Linked DNA regions of Homo sapiens: region 2 is linked to region 1. Evidence: fine-mapped expression QTL. A gene starts in region 1. The other region holds a variant in brackets. All regions are shown on one strand. Distances are from middle to middle.

The links. PIP is the estimated chance that this variant, and not a neighbour inherited with it, causes the effect.
Region 2: its variant is fine-mapped to the expression of CAMP in whole blood (TOPMed, PIP 0.90).

The regions. Positions count from the first base shown.
Region 1 is chr3:48,218,635-48,228,942 of GRCh38, forward strand. It overlaps CAMP (cathelicidin antimicrobial peptide), which reads left to right and starts at 4,861. Exons shown (of 4, transcript NM_004345.5): 1 at 4,861-5,078; 2 at 5,720-5,827; 3 at 5,969-6,040; 4 at 6,659-6,851. The coding sequence starts at 4,878. The coding sequence ends at 6,790. RefSeq lists enhancers at 4,206-4,325, 4,346-4,475, 4,486-4,535 and a silencer at 4,545-4,839.
Region 2 is chr3:48,252,367-48,262,674 of GRCh38, forward strand. It overlaps ZNF589 (zinc finger protein 589), which reads left to right. Exons shown (of 4, transcript NM_016089.3): 3 at 8,447-8,573. It also overlaps the pseudogene MRPS18AP1. Among named protein-coding and RNA genes, the nearest start is that of ZNF589, 16 kb to the left of the region's middle. RefSeq lists an enhancer at 3,934-4,504. The variant C/G (reference allele first, on the strand shown) is at 4,528.

The DNA.
Region 1 (10,308 bases):
ATATGTATCTTGTTGGGGAAGAGTTGGGCTAAGGCCATTGCCAAGTAAGGAGACCTGACCCTGACCTCACTTGCCAAAACATCCCGGGAGTACAGGACTTGACAGTGGACATGCACTTGCTTACTCACTGTTGCATTTGAACAAACACTGCAGGGCATCTCATTCCCATCCTACAAATATGAGAACATTATCAAGAAAACAAGGCAACTTGCTCGAAGTCACACAGCTAGTAATCGACGGTGCTTGAGACCCTCCACCCCAGGTCTCTTGGCAATACAATTCTGCAAGTGAAAGAAAGGCAGAAGGAGGAACTTGTCCTGAGTCTGGGCAGAACCTGTGATTGGCATTCCCTGTCTGCCACAGGGTATAAGCATACCCTGCCCCATGCCCCAGGTTTAGGGAAGGAAACGTCTGCCTTTGAGTATATATTCAATACATTGCTCCAATGCATTGCTGTCTACAAGGTTGGGGCTACTGTCCCAATTTTTGCACGAGAAAGGTTCAGGGAGGGAGGCAATTTACCAGAAGTTAGCTCTTGGCCTGAGTCACCCCAATTTTCTATTTTTGAGTCAGGGTCTTGCTCTGTTGCCCTGACTGGATACAGTGGCATGATCACAGCTCACGGTAGCCTCCATCTTCTGGGCTCAAGCAATCCTCCCACCTTAGCCTCCCAAGTAGCTGGGACCACAGGTGCACACCACCATGCCCAGCTAATTTTAAAATTTTTTTGTAGAGACAGGGCCTCGCTCTGTTGCCCAGGCTGGTCTCGAACTCCTGTCCTGAAGCACCATGCTTGGCCAACAAAGTTACTATCTCTGGGAGCACACTATGTTTACTTCTGAAGCATTAACCTAACAGGTCACATTAATAACAACAAAAACAATTCACATGTACTGGCCACAGACCATGTTGTATTTGACCCTCACAACAATTCTACAAACTAGACATTGTGATGATCATCCCTGTTCTACAGATGAGGAGGCAGGAGAGCAGACACATCGGTATGCAGATACACAGCTGGTCGCAGCAGGGCTGAGCCAGGAACCCAGTCAGCCTCATGAGGGAACCTGGGCTCTTTGCCTGCAAAGCCCTGGGCTTTCTGTGCTGACTATAGATTCTGGGCACAGGGAGGGACAGGGACAGTGACTCACCCACAGAGACAGAGGCTGGTGACGAATATGGTTCCTGGGATTCCCATCCCAGGACTCCCTCCCCAGTGCTCCCCAAGGGGATGAACAAACTGCCTGCTTGGTTCTCTACTTTTCAGACAAGTTGGCCATTCTGATGAAGGCTGTCTCAGGGGCAAGCAGGCCTGAGGAGGTGGGTGCTTCCACCAGGACAACCAGGGCTGCAGACACGGAGCCAGAGAGGGAACGCAGAGTGGGGGCTAAGCTGGGCTTTGTTCGCCAATGGGGGAGGGATTGTGGAGTGGGAGAGGGTAGCTCCAGCATCTGCTCATCTGTGGAAAGTCTCTCAGAGCCTTCAGCAGTCCCAGTGCACCAGGTTCCCTGATCACATTGTGTAGGAGTTGGAGCCTCCTGGGTCTGCAGGAGAGGAAGGGGCCACTTAGAGAAGTCAGGGTGGGAGATTCAGAGAGAGAGAGGAAAGAGAGAGAGATAGAGAGACAGAGGGACAGGGGCTGCCCAGGCCTTTGTGAAGGGACATTTATCTAGCCCTCAAGTCTTGATGTGGAAAAGCCTAACTTTTTTTTTTTTTTTGAGACGGAGTCTTACACTCTTGCCCAGGCTGGAGTGCAGTGGCGCCATCTCAGCTCACTGCAAGCTCCGCCTCCTGGGTTCACACCATTCTCCTGCCTCAGCCTCCCAAGTAGCTGGGACTACAGGCGCATGCCACCACACCCAGCTAGAGACGGGGTTTCACTGTGTTAGCCAGGATGGTCTCAATCTCCTGACCTCATGATCAGGCCACCTCGGCCTTCCAAAGTGCTGGGATTACGGGCGTGAGCCACCGCGCCCGGCTAAGCCTCACTTTTCTTTTCTCATTCCGCCTTGCCTAGAATCTTCTGATCACTCTATTAATGGGGTGAGCCATTATGAAAAAGGCGAGCTGGTGAGAGCCTCCTTTCTCCCTCTCTAGGAGGAAGGGGCAGCCATGGGTTCTAAAGGTCTGAAGTCAGCCGCCCTACCTCAGGTAGTGGACACCGACCTGCATGTGCCGAGGGCAGGACTCACTCCTGGAACCTGGGAAGCCTGGACCTTGTGCGATGGCCCTGAGAGGGAAAGCAAGTGCCCCTGAGTCCAGACTTCTGCAGTTGTATCAGAGGGCCTATGCAAGCTGCTTGGGCTCTGGCTGATTTCATGTGAGGGCGTGTCCAGCACTGGCCGAAGTGGAACGTCCTCTTGAGGCAGTTGGAAAGGGGCTCTGAATATGCCAGATCTGACCTAGAGGAACACAGGAGCATGCAGCTCTCACGCCCTAGCCTAAGGACTAACATTGCCATCTGCTTCTCCCCGGTTTGGCTTCTTGGGGATCCTGAAGCCAGTCAGAAGGGTGGAGGAAGCAGGAGAGCCCTGAGAGGTCTGATATCCCTGGATGGCCCTTTTCCCAACAGCCATAAAAGACCTGATGTGCAAGCCCTGCTTGACCAACAGGCCACTGGGGCAACACTTGAACTGTGAAACCAGGTTGCACAGAAGCCCACTTCTTCCTTCTCTCAAGGCCAGGTGTGCAACCGGTGGCCTTCGTCCAGGCTTCCACCTTCCAGGAGCCCTGCTGTCCAAGCCCCCAAGTGTCCCACAGGCCAACTGAGGTCAAGAGGTACCCCAGGCCTCAGGGCCACATGGCCAGTCCACAGAGGAGCTGGGACCGGAATTTGCCTCATGGACGCTGGACCCCTCTATCACTTTGGCCCTTTATCTCTCCTGGCTGTGATCTCTCCCTCTCCCAACACCAGCCACCCATCCCAGCTTGGTGTCTCAGCTAGAGCACCAAACAGGGAGTAATTTGAGGTCGAATCAGGAGAGACTTCCTGGAAGATGTAGGGGCAAAGAGGAGATTGCTGTGCCTGGTTGGAGGTCAGGGAAAGCTTCATGAGGTGAAAGGGCAGGCCAAACAGAAGGATCGGGGCAGAGCTGGGAGAAAGAGCAGGAGGCTCAGATGAGCCTATGTGATGGGGGCATACGTGACAGTCTGGCACTTGCAGTGTGCAGGGCTGGGGTGAGGGCAGTGGGAACCAAAAGGCCACAGGCCCTGATGCCAGCCTAGGGGGTGTGTGGGCTCCTGAAGGTAGAGGGTTGAAATGGCCAAATTGGTGGTTTAAAGGAACCCCTGGACAACGGTGTGGAGGGTGGACTGTGGTCTGGGGAGAGCCTGAAACCTAGAGAAGGTGGAGTCTGGAGGCTGGGGCAGCATTGCATGGGAGAGAAGATGGCGGCAGGAGCCAGGCAGGGGTGGAAGGAGAGGCCAGAGGGGAGTGCTTTCGGGAGGAAGGAGCCAAAGGTGCTTCAGGGCTCATGCAGTGGGCACTCAGCAGAAGAGCAGTCAAGGAGGCCCAGTGGGGACAACCGGGACGTTCATGGGAGTCTCGAACTCAGAGATACAGACTGGGTGGTGTCTGCCTATTATAACTGGTGTCCTGGGAGAGGGCGTCCCCAGGGAAACCCGAGGCCAGGGAAGAGAAGCAGCCCAGGAGGTGACCCCACACGCTCTCAATATTAAGAAGACAGCCCTTAGGGGAGACCAAGAAGGAGCCACCAGGGAGGCAGGAGGGACAGCAGGAGAGTGGCATCAGGGGAGACCGGGGCAGCAAGAAGGAAGGCTCACCAGTGCCTGTGCAGACAAAGACCAGGCTTGAGGGTGGCCATGGACCAAGGGTGGGTTGGCCAGCCTTCAGTGGCCTTCAGCATGAAGAAGAGTGAAAAGATGGGGTCAAGAAGCGTAGACAACCTTTCCTAAGACTTGGCTTGGGAGAAGCCATGGTGAAAGGCCATGTCTGGAGGGGCTTGGGAACATTTTGAGACTGAAAAAAACAGTGAAGAAGGATGCAGAAGGGGATAGATGGAGCAGAGCCTTCGTCTGGCTGACGGCTGGGTCCAGAGAGCATGTGGTATGGCCTTGAACTGAAAGGGCAACTTGTCCCTTGCAAGAGTGAGTCTCTAGGTTGGGGGTGGCTACTGTCTTCATTTACCAGTTCTTTTTTTTTTTTTTCATACTGAGTCTCACTCTGTTACCCAGGCTGGAGTGCAGTGGCATGATCTCAGCTAACTGCAACTTCTGCTTCCCGGGTTCAATGGGTTCAAGTGATTCTCATGCCTCAGCTTGTAGCTGGGACTACAGGTGTGAGCCATCATGCGTGGCTAATTTTCATATTTTTAGTAGAGATGGGGTTTCACCATGTTGGCCAAGCTTGTCTCGAACTCCTTATCTCAGGTGATCCGCCCACCTTGGCCTCCCAAAGTGCTGGGATTATAGGCGTGAGCCACCGTGCCCTGCCTCATTCATCAATTCTTAATCGATGCCTACAGGGTGCCAGGCAATGCCTAGAGCTGGAGATTTAGCAGTCCATCATACTGACTCCTGAGGAGTAGAAGGATGTAGAATAGGCACCTGGCTCTCTTCCTCTCTGGAGGGATTTAACGCTCTTGAGCACCCCTGGCTATGACAATCTCCGGTCAGGTCTGGGAGGTTGTCAGAGATGAAGAAACCACTTCCTCATCTTGCACACAAGGAAGGCCTCACTCACTGCCCAGCAAGTCCTGTGAAGCAATAGCCAGGGGCTAAAGCAAACCCCAGCCCACACCCTGGCAGGCAGCCAGGGATGGGTGGATCAGGAAGGCTCCTGGTTGGGCTTTTGCATCAGGCTCAGGCTGGGCATAAAGGAGGCTCCTGTGGGCTAGAGGGAGGCAGACATGGGGACCATGAAGACCCAAAGGGATGGCCACTCCCTGGGGCGGTGGTCACTGGTGCTCCTGCTGCTGGGCCTGGTGATGCCTCTGGCCATCATTGCCCAGGTCCTCAGCTACAAGGAAGCTGTGCTTCGTGCTATAGATGGCATCAACCAGCGGTCCTCGGATGCTAACCTCTACCGCCTCCTGGACCTGGACCCCAGGCCCACGATGGTGAGCTTTGGGGGACATTCTGCTCTGCTCTGGCTGGGCTTGGCCACGTGTTGTTCCTTCTGCTCCTGCTGCACTGCCTGCCAGGAGGGCATCTCCCCCTTTAAATGTGGTCCCGTGTTTTCCAGGGAACCTTCTAGAGCTCGTGTCTCCTCCCAGCTCGAGAGCTTCCTGCCTTATAATTCCTGCTGTGGCAGAGATACCCTCACCCCGACCCCACGCAGGTTTTGGGACTTCTGCGAGCTCCAGGCACTAGAATGGGGTCATTGGCTCTGGGCAGTGACCTCCTCTGCTTTAAGTCTCTTCTGTACCACGTTACCCCACATAGGGAAGAACTCTATCCAGACTTTAGGTTCCAGTGGGCATGTCTTGTCCCCCAGGAAGCCCCCTGACTTCCCTTGCCCCCACCCCAGAGTGGGAGGGGCTCCTTGTTAGAGCTCATCTGAGGTCTGCTCCTACTCACTGTTCACCTAGGAGGGTAGGAATGGCTCAGTCCTCCTCCCCTCAATGCCCCAGTGCCAAGCCCAGCACCCAGTGCCCGTCGCACATCAGGTACTGTGGAAAGCCTGCCCTCTTGGTGGGGAGGTCATGGACACAAATCAGAAAATACAAGAATGGGCCTCCCCATTTCCTCCTCTGACTAGGATGGGGACCCAGACACGCCAAAGCCTGTGAGCTTCACAGTGAAGGAGACAGTGTGCCCCAGGACGACACAGCAGTCACCAGAGGATTGTGACTTCAAGAAGGACGGGGTGAGGCTGGGGGCTGGGGGTGTTGGTGGGTGCCTCCCAAGGAGCTGAACAGGGGGCACCTGGGGAATATTTCCCACTGGGATGTGGCTGGGAGGTCATGGCAAATGGTTTCAAGTTTGACCTTGAGCTTCTCCTTTCCAGCTGGTGAAGCGGTGTATGGGGACAGTGACCCTCAACCAGGCCAGGGGCTCCTTTGACATCAGTTGTGATAAGGTGAGTGGGCTGTTCTGGGATGCAGGGGCTGATGGGGGCATAGAGTGTGGACCATCCAATGGGTCAATTAACTACTCCCCCAACCCAGGACAGAGAAAGCCCCTCCTACCCAGGGCTCTTCCCCAAACCTGAGTTCCATCTCCAGGGCCGGCTCTGGAATCCCTTAGAGCGGTAGATCTCCAAGTGTAGCCCTTCCTGGGGACTCGTTAGATATGCAAATTCTCAGGCCCTACTCAGACCTACTCAGACAGACTCTGGGTAGGGCCCAGAAATTCGTATTTTGATAAGCTTTCCAGGAGATTCCGGCTTCTGTAAAGTTTGAGAGCCACTGTCTAAGAGTACTCAGCTCTCAGCCCTGTGTTCCCATCTCAGTGTTGCTGGGCTGGGCTGTGTGACCCTGCAGAGCCCCTCACTATCTCCGGGACTCTGTTTTCTCATCTTTTTATTGGGTGTAGGGATTCAATCACATGCTTCAAAGGTCACAGCCAGAGGTTGAACTGGGGCCCCAAAGCTCCTGCGGGGGCCCACGAAGAGGGGCGTCTAGGTGGGGAGGGGTCTTGGATTGACCCTGGGTACATCCCCGACAAGGAACCTGTTTCTTCCTGTACACAACCCCAGGATAACAAGAGATTTGCCCTGCTGGGTGATTTCTTCCGGAAATCTAAAGAGAAGATTGGCAAAGAGTTTAAAAGAATTGTCCAGAGAATCAAGGATTTTTTGCGGAATCTTGTACCCAGGACAGAGTCCTAGTGTGTGCCCTACCCTGGCTCAGGCTTCTGGGCTCTGAGAAATAAACTATGAGAGCAATTTCCTCAGGCTTCAGTCTCACTTGTTTTGCCTCCTCTCTCTCACCACAACTGAGCCCTTAGCTCAGGGAGTCCACGTGTGAGTGTGAGTGTGTGTGAGTGTGACACAGAGGTGGCGAGGGCAGTGTTCCATCCAGGAGGACACAGGGTAAGGCAGTAGGGCCAAGAGATCCAAGATGGCATTCCCATTCTCAGTGGAACCCCCAGTGGGGAATTAAGGAGCTCTACTCTGTGTGTGGTGGTGGGGGAATGCTGTGGAGCTGTTCCTGCTCATGGGGAGGTGACATTCAAGGGAGGGGCCAAGCGTGTTGTTAACACTCAGAGAAGCATGGTCCAGTCCCATGGGTGGCTGGCCAACTGGGTGCGGTCTCCCTGCAGGTACAATTCCCATAAAATTCCAATGCTTCCTAAAAGACTTAACTCAGGAAAGCCCATAACTCCTGGCATTTCCTCTGGCATTGGGACACATCACAGTTTCTTCAGGTGGGTAGCAGATTTAACTTGTGAGCTTGTGTTTAGGGATTGTTAAAAACAAGAATATGGCCAGACGTGGTGGCTCACACCTGTAATGCCAGGACTTTGGGAAGCGAGGCGGGTGGATTGCTTGAGGTCAAGAGTTTGAGACCAGCCTGGGCAACATAACAAACCCTGTCTCTACTAAAAATACAAAAATGAGCTGGGCATGGTGGTGCGTGCCTGTAGTCCCAGCTACTCGGGAGGCTGAGGTGGGAGGATTGCTTGAGCCTGGAAGGCAGAGGTTGCAGTGAGCTGAGATTGCGCCACTGCACTCCAGCCTGGGTGACAGGGTGAAACAAAGGTGACTGGGCTCATAAAAACCAAAAACCTGCCAGGCGTGGTGGCTCATGCCTGTAATCCCAGCACTTTAGGAGGCTGAGGCTGGTTGATCACCTGAGGTTGGGAGTTTGAGACCAGCCTGACCAACATGGAGAAACCCTGTCTCTACTAAAGTGGCAAAAATTAGCCAGGCATGGTGGCACATGCCTGTAATCCCAGCTACTTGGAAAGGCTGAGGCAGGAGAATCGCCTGAACAGGAGGCGGAGGTTGTGGTGAGCCAAGATCGTGCCACTGCACTCCAGCTGGGCAACAAGAGCGAAACTCCATCTCAAAAAAATAAAATAAAATAAAATAAAAACCAAAGACCAAGAATATGTTGGGTGTGGTGGTGCACACCTGTAATCCCAGGTACTTGGGAGGCTCAGGTGGGAGGGTCACTTGAGCCCAGGAGTTCAAGGCTGCAGTGAGCTATGATCATGCTAGTTCACTCCAGCCTGGGCAAAGGAGTGAGACCTCGTCTCTAAAACAAGCAAACAAACAAAAAAAGGAGAATCCTGCTCAGTGGAGTGAGGTGCTGTGGCTAGAAGAGACATGCAGAGTGTGACACACAGGTCGCGACTCTGTTGTGCTGGTGTTTCAGACATGGATCGTGTTCTCCCCACTCACCATTCTGTAGCCACTAGAAGCACCTGCAGCTTTTTGCTATGGGGTTGCTCAACTGGAAGTACTGGGAAGTCTATGCGCCAGGGAGCAGCCTCAACCAATGATAGGTGGGAGCTGGTGGAAAAATATTTGTTCTTCTCACCCGTGGGGGGCACACTCAGAGGTGTGTTTCACATCTCCCAGAGGTCCCCAGGTGGGCTACCCTCAACAAAGACCTGTTCATGACCACATCCTCTTCTGACTTGTTCGTTCCCTGTCTCACTTCTCTACACTCCTGCAGGTGCTTTCTGTAGTTGCTTCCCAAATACACTACTCTCACTTAAATCCTTAACTCAGGTCTGCTTCCAGGCCAACCTAAACTAAGACACAGGCATCCCTCTCTGAGAGGAAGAGAAGGCAAAACCTCACAAGAACACTTGCTTTGTTTTCTGTTATGCTTGCTTCTTCTTTTCTTTTTTGAGATGGGGTCTCACTATGTTACCCAGGCTGGTCTTGAATTCCTGAGCTCAAGCGATCTTCTTGCCTCAATTCCCAAAGCGTGAGCCACTGTGCCCTGCCCATGCTTGCTTCTTCATGACGAGCAGGTGTGGCTGATTTCAAGCAGGTTGGAGGAGGTAGATGCTTCTCACTCTGTATCATTACAGAGTGCTAGAGAGAGTTCTAGGGAGGAAACTCAGGGGCATATGCTGTGTCAGAGCCAATTGTTAAATTTTCAGGAATTTTTTTTTTTGAGACGGAGTCTCTCTCTGTCACCCAGGATGGAGTGCAGTGGCGTGATTTCGGCTCACTGCAAGCTCCGCCTCCCGGGTTCACACCATTCTCCTGCCTCAGCCTCCCGAGTAGCTGGGACTACAGGCGCCTGCCACCACTCCTGGCTAATTTTTTGTATATTTAGTAGAGACGGGGTTTCACTGTGTTAGCCAGGATGGTCTCGATCTCCTGACCTTGTGATCTGCCTGCCTTGACCTCCCAAAGTGCTGGGATTACAGGCATGAGCGACTGCGCCCGGCCTAAATTTTCAGGACTTTTTTGAGCTCGGTGTTAAATTCTTGGCGGCTTAAAATTGGCCATGGTGGGAGGCAGTATTTACACCATGGAAATCTGCAAATGCTGCAAAGCAGCATCCCCAACCCCAGCTGTCACACCACTGCCCAAACTGAGGGAGGGGTCACTCACAAGGATACCAAGAGCCTGTGCCGACTGCATCTATTTCCAGTTTCCTCCCATGATTATCCATCCTGCTACCGTGACAACCCTCTTATTACCCCTGCCCTGCCTTGCTCTTTGATAGTCTACATGGGCGTTAATGAGATGGCCCTCGTCATGAACCAGATAGATATAATCCAGGCTGGATTTTTTTTTTCAAGACGGACTCTTGCTCTGTCACCCAGGCTGGAGTGCAGTGGCGTGATCTCGGCTCGCTGCAACCTCTGCCTCCCGGGTTCAAGCAGTTCTCCTGCCTCAGCCTCCAGAGTAGCTGGGATTACAGGTGCCCGCCACGCACTCAGCTAATTTTTGTATTTTTAGTAGAGATGGGGTTTCACCATGTTGAGCAGGCTGGTCTTGAACTCCTGACCTCATGATCCGCCTGCCTCAGCCTCCCAAAGTGCTAGGATTACAGGTGTGAGCCACTGCACCTGGCCTTGGATTTTAATATTATACATTCATTGCTATTATAGTCATTTTAATCTTCTGATTTCATTTTATTTATTTATTTATTTTTTGAGATGGGGTCTCACTCTGTTACCCAGGCTGGAGTGCAGTGGCAGGATCTTGGCTCACTGCAACCTCCACCTCCCAGGCTCATGCAATCCTCCCACTTCAGCCTCCCGAGTAGCCAGAACCACAGGTGTGCACTACCACGCCCGGCTTATTTTTTGTATTTTTAGTAGAGACAAGGTTTCACCATGTTGCCCAGGCTGGTCTCAAACTCCTGAGTTCAAGTGATCTACCCACCTCGGCCTCCCAAAGTGCTGGGATTACAGGCGTGAGCTACCACGCCC
Region 2 (10,308 bases), 34 kb after region 1:
ATTTTTAGTAGAGATGGGGTTTCACCGTGTTAGCCAGGATGGTCTCGATCTCCTGACCTTGTGATCCACCCGCCTCGGCCTCCCAAAGTGCTGGGATTACAGGCATGAGCCACCATGCCCAGCTGTCTTTTGCATTTTTATATAAATATTGAAATCTATCAATTTGAAATTGAAAGTCTTATCAATTTGTACAATGGGATTTTGATTGAATTGCTTTGAATTTTTATATTAGTTTGGGGGAGAATAATATCTTTTTTTTTTTTTTTTTTTTTTTTGAAACGGAGTCTCGCTGTCGCCCAGGCTGGAGTGCAGTGGCAGGATCTCGGCTCACTGCAGGCTCCGCCCCCTGGGGTTCACGCCATTCTCTTGCCTCAGCCTCCCAAGTAGCTGGGACTACAGGCCACTGCCACCTTGCCCGGCTAATTTTTTATATTTTTAGTGGAGACGGGGTTTCACCATGTTATCCAGGATGGTCTCAATCTCCTGACCTCGTGATCCACACGCCTCCCAGAGTGCTGGGATTACAGGCGTGAGCCACTGCGCCCAGCCATGAGAATAATATCTTAACATTATTGAGTTTTCTGGTCCATCAGCGCAGTATCTCTCCATTTATTTAGACAATTTTTTCCTCATTTATGTAGATCTTTATCTTAATAATCTGGGCGTTTTTTATTTTTATTTTTTGAGACAGAAGATCCCTCTGTTTCCCAGGCTGGAGTGCAGTGGTGCAATCTCAGCTCACTGCAGCCTCTACTTCCTAGGTTCAAGTGATTCTCTTGCCTCAGCCTCCTGAGTAGCTGGGATTACAGGCGTGCACCACTACACATAGCTATTTTTTGTATTTTTAGTAGATGGGCTTTTGCCACGTTGGCCAGGCTGGTCCCAAATTTCTGACCTCAAGTGATCCACCTGCCTTGGCTTCCCAAAGTGCTTGGACTACAGGTGTGGGCCACCATGCCCGGCCATCACCGTTAGTATTAATGAACCAATAATAATGGTGGTTATTAACTAAAGTCCAACTTTATTCAGATTTCTTTAGTTTTAATGACCATTTTCTGTCCCAAAATCCCATCCAGGTTATCATGTTACACTTAGTTGTCACGTCTCCAAGGTAGTACTAGTCATATTTTTCTTTTTTTTTTTTTTTTTTTGAGACGGAGTCTCGCTCTGTCGCCCAGGCTGGAGTGCAGTGGCACCATCTCGGCTCGCTGCAAGCTCTGCCTCCCGGGTCCACGCCATTCTCCTGTCTCAGCCTCCCGAGTAGCTGGGACTACAGGCGGCTGCCACCACGCTAGGCTAATTTTTTTTTGTATTTTTAGTAGAGACGGGGTTTCACCGTGTTAGCCAGGATGGTCTCGATCTCCTGACCTCGTGATCCACCCACCTCGGCCTCCCAAAGTGCTGGGATTACAGGCGTGAGCCACCGTGCCCGGCGCTAGTCAGATATTTTGTAGATTGTCCCTTACTTGGGATTTGTTTGATGTTTTCCTCAAGTGAGAGGATTGCTTGAGCCCAGGAGTTCAAGACTAGTCTGAGCAACACAGCAAGAACCCATCTCTATAAAAAATTAAGAAATTTGCTGGGATTGGTGGCATGTACCTGTATCCTAGCTACTTGGGAGGCTGCCGTGGGAGGATCACTTGAGCTCAGGAGTTTAAGGCTACATTGAGCTATTATTATGCCACTGTACTCCAGCCTGGGTGACAGAGCGAGACCTTATCTCTTAAAAAACAAACAAAACAAGCTGGGCGTGGTGGCTCATGCCTGTAATCCCAGCTACTTGGGAGGCTGAGGCAGGAGAATTGCTTGAACCCAGGAAGTGGAGGTTGCGGTGAGCTGAGATCGTGCCATTGCACTCCAGCCTGGGCAACGAGTGAAACTCTGTCTCAAAAAAAAAACTAAACAAAAAATCAGTCGATGTTTGTGTCGGTCATTTCTGGACTCTATTCTGTTCCACTGATCTACTTGCCTTTGTTTTTGCCCATACCACACTGTCTTGATAAATGTAGCTTTATAATAAGTCTTGGAATTGGGTAATATGAATCCTTCAACTTTATTCTTCAGTATTTTGTTAGCTATTCCAGGTCTTTTGTCTTTCCATGTAAACTCTACAATCAGTTTCTCGATAGGTACAAAATAGCTTGCTGAGTTTTTGACTGGGTTTGCATTGAATCTATACATTGAGATCGGAAGAGCTGATATCATAATACTGAGTCTAACTATCCATGAAGATAGACTGTCTTACCATTTGTTTAGATCATCTTTGATTTCTTTCATCATTGTTTGTAGTTTTTCACATGTAGACTATGTACATGTTTTGTTAGAGTTGAACCTAAGTATTTAATTTTTTTGGTGCTCTGTGTGTATGTGTGTGTGTAAAATTTAAAATTCTAATTGTTCATTGCTGGTATATAGGAAAGCAGTTGACATATAGGAAAGCAGATGATCTTATATCCTGCAACCTTTCTATGTTTGCTTATTAGTTCCAAGGTTTTTTTTTTTTATTTCTTTTTGTAGATTCTCTGGAATTTCCTATGTAGACAGTCATGTCATCTGTGAACAAAGACAGCTTTACTTCTTTTCAAATATGTGTACATTTTCTTTTTCTTGTCTCATTGCAATAGCTAGGACTTTCAGTACAATGTTGAACAGGAGTGGTGAGAGAAGACATCCTTGCCTTGTTTCCAGTTATCTAGGAAAAACATCTAGTTTCTTGCTATAAAGTAGGATATTTGTTGTAGGTTTTTTGTAGATGTTCTTTGTCAATTGAGGAAGTTCTGCTGTATTTCTAGTTTGCTGAGAGCTATTACTTCTTTTTTTTTTTTTTTTAAGACAGTCTCACTCTACCTGTCAGGCTGGAGTGCAGCAGCGCCATCTTGGTGCATTGCAACTTCTGCCTCTTGGGTTCAAGTGATTCTTGTGCCTCAGCCTCCCAAGTAGCTGGGATTACAGGTGTGCGCCACCACGCCCAGCTAATTTTTGTATTTTTAGTGGAGACGGGGTTTCACCATGTTGGCCAGGCTGGTCTCAAGCTCCTGACCTCAAGTGATCTGCCTACCTTGGCCTCCCAAAGTGCTGATATTACAGGCGTGAGCCACCATGCCTGGCCAAGAGTTTTTACTTTTTTTTTTTTTTTTTTTTTTTTTGAGACAAAGTCTCGCTCTTTCTCCAGGCTGGAGTGCAGTAGTGCGATCTTGGCTCACCGCAACCTCCGCCTCCCGGGTTCAAGTGATTCTCCTGCCTCAGCCTCCCGAGTAGCCGGTATTACAGGTGCTACCAACCACGCCTGGCTAGCTTTTGTGTTTTCAGTACAGACATGGTTTTGCCACGTTGGCTGGTCCCGAACTTGTAACCTCAGGTGATCTGCCTGCCTTAGCCCCCCAAAGTGCTGTGATTATAGGCAAGAGCCACCATGCCTGGCCAGAGACGGGGTCTTGCCATGTTGCCCAGGCTGGTCTCAAACTCCTGGGCTCAAGCAATCCTCCTGCCTTGACCTCCCAAACTGTTGGGATTACAGGCACAAGCCACCACGCCTGGCAGCTAAGAATTTTTATAATCACTAGATGTTGGGTTTTGTATTTTCTGTATCAAATGATATGATCATATGATTTTGTTTCTTTAGCCTGTTAACATGGTGGATTACAATGATTGATTTTCTTTTCTTTTTTTTTTCAAGCCCATGAGCCTAGTTTATGACATTCCACTGGGCAAAACTCCTGTCCCCAGCACTGAGTATGGCCCAAGCCCCACAGCAATTGCCAAGGGACCCAACTGCCCTGCCTGCCTCTAGCTCCCAGCATTGCTACTGGGGAGGCCAAGGGTACTGAAGTTCATCCCACTGTCCCCTGTCCATACATGTCAGAGGGGCCAGGCCGTCATGGTGGGGTGGGGCAGGAGTATAGTTGTGGCCCAGGGCTTGTGAGTACGCCTCCTACTCCACAGCGCAGGTGCAGGAGGAACTCTGGAAGCTCTTCTGTCTGTGAGTGATACAGCTTCCAAGGTGTCCTTGAGTAGCAGACATTGTCCCTCAGGAGGGTTGACCCCAAGGCCATGAACGCCCTGTTCCAGGGGAGGCCTTTTTTTGTAGATGGGCATGAGGGTGCGGGGACCCCAGTGGGTCAGGTACTGGTTGAATTGGGGTTTGCCCTTTGGAACAACTCCTTCAGGAAGCTGAGGCCTGTGATTTGGTAACAGACCTGCTCGGTAGGCCATCTTCACACACCCCTCAATCTTGCAGTTCTCTTCCCGTCATAGGCCTGTGATCTTTCGGGGCAGCATGCCTCCATGGGGCTGGATGAACTGGCTAAGCAGCAAAACATCATCATAGTTTTACTTGTGGTTCAGGTTCCAGTGGCAGATGGGGCACTGGCCAGAGGGGTTAGGAGGATTTGGACTCTCCTTGGGAGTCGCTGTGATACGGCCTTCAATTATAGTTGTCTTTCCTTCTTGGATTTCCACCACTTCCCTGAAACCACGAGCTGGAAGCTGAGACCAGCTGGTCACTGCTGGGCCTGCTAGGAGCCCACA[C/G]GGAAGCTGCCCACAGCCAGACACCAGAGCCTCAAAGGCCGCCATCTTGAAAAACCAACCCTGACCTCCACAATGATTGATTTTCAAATGTTGAACCAGCTTTGCAGAACTATAATAAACCCAAGTGTGGTATGTAATTCTTCTTGGGCATTTCTGGATTTGATTTTCTTATATTTTGGGAGGGGGTATTGTATCTCTGTGAGATATATTGATCTGTAGTTTTAATTTCTAATGTCTTTATCTAGATTTGCTATTAGGATAATGCTGGATTCATAGGATGGGTTAGGAAATGTTCCCTCTGCTTTGTGTTCTGGAAGAGATGGGGGTCTTCTATAGTAAAAAGTTTTTGTTTTTGTTTTTGTTTTGTTTTTTGTTTTTTGTTTTGAGACAGAGTCTTGCTCTGTCTCCCAGGCTGGAGTGCAGTGGCATGATCTTGGCTCACTGCAACCCCTGCCTCCTGGGTTCAAGCGATTCTCCTGCCTCAGCCTCCCGAGTAGCTGGAATTACAGGCGTGTGCCACCACACCCAGCTAATTTTTGCATTTTTAGTAGAGACGGGATTTCACCATGTTGGCCAGACTGGTCTCTAACTCCTGACCTCAGGTGATCTGCCTGCCTCAGCCTCCCAAAGTGCTAGGATTACAGACGTGAGCCACCGAAAAAAGTTTTAATTTTGGTGAAGTCTGGTTTATTATTATTTTTTTTAATGGATTGTGGTTTTGGTGTCATGTCTAAGAACTCTTTGCCAAGCACTAGGTCCCAATATAGATCTTCTCCTGTATTTTTTCTAGTATTTTTATATTTAAATTCGTGATTCATTTTGATTTTTTTTGTTTTTTGTTTTTAATAAAGTGTGAGGTTTTAGGTTGAGGTTAATTTTTTTGTCTGTGAATATCCAGTTGGTCCAGTGCCATTTGTTGCAAAGTCTATTCTTCATTGAATTACTTTTACAAAAATCCACTTTGGGGTATTTGTGTTGATCTCTTTCTGGGTTTTCGGTTCTCTTCTATTGATCTGTGTGTCTATTCTTCCATAGATACCCTGTCTCAAGTATTGTGGTGATCAAATAGTAAGTTTAATATCAGGTAGCGTGATCTCTCTTACTTTGTTCTTCTAGTTTCTTTGCCTTATCATATATATTAGGATAAGTTGTCTATATCTACAAAAAAATCTGGTTGGGATTTTGATGGGAATTGTGTTAAATCTATAGATCATTTTGGGGAAGATTGACATCTTTACTATGTTGAGCCTTCCAACCCATGAACGTGCTTTGCCTCCCCATTTATCTAGATCTTTGATTTTTTTTTCCATTGGCATTTTGTAGTTTTCAGTGTACAGATGTTATAGTTGTTTTGCTGGAGTTATGTTAGGCACCTCTTTTTTGCGGGAGTGATTGTAAATGGTATGTTTTTAATTTCAGTTTCCACATGGTCGTTGTTAATCTATATGAATACGATGGATTTTTATGTGTTCATCTTGTATCTTTCAGTCCTCCTGGACTCACTTATTAGTTATATGATCATTTTTATAGATTCCTTTGCATTTCCTACATAGAAAACCGTGTCCTTGGCAAATAGGGGTAATTTTATCTCTTCCTTACCAGTCTCTGTGCTTTTTACTTCCTCTTCTTGCCTTGTACTGGACAGAATGTTTGATTACTTTTTGAGAACCAAAAATTATTTACTTATTTTAAAAATCAGTTTTCACTTAAATATAAAACATTCTATTGCTTAGTTATAGCAAATTGTAATAGCAAGTGTTTACTGCATGTGAGGCATTGATGTCAGTGCTTTATCTTTATTAAGACAGTAGGTGTCATTATCAAGCCCATTTTATAGATGTGGAAACTAAGACACAGAGAGGTTATGTAAGCTTCCAAAGGTCATGTATTGTATAAGTGGCAAAGCTGGGATTTGGACTTGTGCGGTCTGACTCCATAGATTGGGCTCCTACTACATCCACTGAGCAAAAAGCCTAGCTTCCATTGTAGCTGAGCCTGTTGTTTTATGTTTCAGTGGAAAAACTAGAGGGGGAAGAGGAGTCAAGAGAGAAATGGAGAGGATATTGGAACATGAGAGACACAAGGCTTGAACAAGAGAAATTATGAGACCTGGGGTATAAAAAGAAAAGGGGAAAGATCACTGAGAATATGAGAACCAGGATGTGCCTGAAGCAGCAGGTCATGGAAAGCATGTAAGGGACAGCAGCCCACACCACTGCCCGCTCAGGCCTTGGCTGCCTAATCCTGGGTCCTGGCCTGCTGTCTAGACTTTTTGTCCTCCCTCGTACACTGTGCCACGCGGCCTGACTGCCTGGGCTGCTGGCTATAGATGTGACATCCCTCCCAAAACTTCTCACACACTCAAGGATTTCAGTATCTACACCTAGTTTCCTACTCTTAGCTCAGCATCATTATTATTCTCTACTGCTTCTGCACTTCTGTGCTGGGTTTTATTAAATCTCTTTTATAGTCCAGCTCTCAGGGGAGGATGCTAGGAAGCTCTGGCTTGGTAGCCTTGCACTGTGTTTCCTTCAGCCCCTACTGTCATCTTTGATTTGCTAGAAGCTTAATTAGTTTAGCTTTAGAACCTGGAATATACATTACCAACTCCTAGAGTGCCAAGGACCACTTGGAAGGTGGACAAGAAGATTGATGTATACCTGAGAATAGGAGGAAGAAGCTGAGTCAGAGAAGAGGTACTCAGGGTAATCAGAGGCAGCTGGGAATAATGTGCAACTGTTCCCAAAGTCTGCAGAGTGAAGTTAAAATTCTAAAGCAAGTCCGAGGCCGGCAGATCACTTGAGGTCGGGAATTGGAGACTAGCCTGGCCAACATGGTGAAATCCCATCGCTACTAAAAACAAAATACAAAAAAAATTAGCCAGGTGTGGTGGTATGCACCTGTGGTCCCAGCTACTTGGGAGGCTGAGGCAGGAGAATTGCTTGAACCCGGTAGGCAGGGGCTGCAGTGAGCCAAGATCACGCCACTGCAGTTCGGCCTGGGTGACAGAGTGAGACTCCGTATCAAAAAAAAAAAAAAAAAAATCTAGGGCAAGTTAGGAGTGTCATGGAATACCCATAGGCTGAAGCAGTTGGTCACTGAGCAAATAATGCTTGAATTCAGTAGAAGTTGATTGGTGACTCCCTTGGTATCTGAGGGCAATGCCACCTTTCAAGTGTAACTAAAGATAGAACACCACTGAATACTCATTTAGAAGAGAAGAGACTTGAAGATGAAAAAGCATATGGTGTATGTTTTTTTGAGACAGGGTCTCGCTCTGGTCACCCAGGCTGGAGTGCAATGGTGCGATCTCAGCTCACTGTAGCCCTGACCTCCTGGGATCAGGCAATCCTCCTACCTCAGCCTCCTGGGTAGCTGGAACTACAGGTGCACACCACCATACTTGGCTAATTTTTGTTTATTTTTCATAGAGACAGGGTCTCACTGTGTTGCTCAGGCTAGTCTTGAACTCTTGGGCTCAAGCAATCCTCTCATGTCAGCCTCCCAAGTAGCAGATCCATTTTTTTCTTTTTGAGGCGGAGTCTCACTCTGTCACCCACGCTGGAGTGCAATGGAGTGATCTTGGTTTACTGCCACCTCTGCCTCTCAGGTTCAAGTGATTCTCCTGCCTCAGCCTCCCAAGTAGCTGGGACTACAGGCGTGTGCTACCACGCCCAGCTAATTTTTGTATTTTTAGTGGAGACAGCGTTTCACCATATTGGCCAGTCTGGTCTCGAACTCCTGACCTCAAGATAACCTCCCACCTCGGCCTCCCAAAGTGCTAGGATTGCAGGTGTGAGCCACCGTGCCCGGCCTAGATCAATTTCTTATGTAGCTAGATGCTCCAAGACCACCAGTTCCATTTTCACTGTGAATCTTAATGGTGACTTGATGAATATGAATTTATCGGTTGATTTAGGGACCAGTGACTTTCGAGGATGTGGCTGTGCTTTTCACTGAGGCAGAGTGGAAGAGACTGAGCCTTGAGCAGAGGAACCTATACAAAGAAGTGATGCTGGAAAATCTCAGGAATCTGGTCTCATTGGGTAAGGACATGTTCTCTTCCTTCATTTTTCCATTCAAGTATTTACTGACCATATTCAGTGTGCCAGCCAATGTTTTAATCTCTTAGAACATATCAGTGAATAGAATAATAAAGCATTTCTTCTCTCGTGGAGCTTATATTCTAGTATAGGTAGACTGACAATATACAATAAGCAGCATATATAGGTAAATTATATATGTCAAAGGATAATAAGTGCTACATAGCTAAAAAAAAATGTATAAGATATATATAAATATAAGTAGAGTAGATTAAGGGAGATCTGAAGTGCCGGGTGTGGAGGCAACTGGCTGAACTTTTAAATTGCATGATCAAGGTAGGCCTCTATGAGGAAGTACATTTGAGCAAAGGCTTGAAGGAGGTGAGGAGGTTGGATATGTGGGTCAGGTGGGAAACTGCTCCAGACAAGGGGAAAGCAGTGCCAAGGCCCTGGAGGCAGGAGCATATCTAGTCCTTTGGAGGAAAAGCAAGGAGGCCAAGGTGGTTGGAGTACAGAGAACAAGGAGGAGAATAGTAAGAGATGCCTTCTATGACCTAGAAGTTGGAAATGTTTAACGTTTAAGGTATAAATCTGTCAGTTTGATGTTTTATAGATTACTGGATATCATACATCATGTTTTTATTCACTTATTTAAAAACTAAAACTGATTACTAGGTTAGCAAATACAAAATTATTCTGGATATTCCTGAGTTCTTGATGAGAGTCAGATTTTCAAAGTTCCTCACATTTCTCTCAGCATCTTTCTCAAGGTTTGTCTTCATCTGGCATAGCTATGAATTACATAGTTCTGATTTGTTCTCTTTGCATCTGCTTAGACCTATTTTGCACTGCTTTAATCTAATTTGAATTGGCCTCATTTCAATCCTAGTTGCCTATTTCTGTTTCAGTGTAGGTTCATCCATTTAAGTTAGCTTTCAATTGGCCAATCTGATTTGGTCTTGTTTCATCTGGTCTTGTTACTCTTTATCTTTATGCTCATACATTTTGTTGATTCTGAAGAATATGTTAAAATTGCCTTAAAATAATCTGATTCAAATTAATCTTGACCCTGAAACTTTGGATCTCACTGTATCCATTTCAGGTGTTAAACTGTTTTCATCCTTGATCCATCTTTCCCTTTCTCTCTACATCACTTTTTCTCTTATTGCTGAATTATTTAAAGCAAATCTCAAATATCATGACATACCACTCCTTTATATCACAGTGCAACTCCAATAAATAAGGACATTTTATTTTATTTATTTTTTTTGAGATGGAGTTTCATTCTCATTGCCCAAGCTGGAGTGCAGTGATGCGATCTTGGCTCACTGCAACCTTTACCTTCTGGGTTCAAGTGATTCTCCTGCCTCAGCCTCCCGAGTAGCTGGGATTACAGGCGCGCATCACCACAGCCGGCTAATTTTTTGTATTTTTAGTAGAAACGGGGTTTCACCATGTTAGCCAGTCTGGTCTCGAACTCCTGACCTCAGGTGATCTGCCCGCCTCAGCCTCCCAAAGTGCTGGGATTACAGGTATGAGCCACTGTGCCCGGCTTCACATTTTCTTATATAACCACAGTATCATGATCAGAACTCACAAAGTTATCAGTAGTGCTTCAGTATCATCCAACACCTAGTCCATGTTCAAATTTACCTGATCATCTCAAAAAAGTTTTTTTGCAAATTTGAATCAGGATTCAGATGAGATCCACACATTCCATCTTCTAAAAACTTCTCTT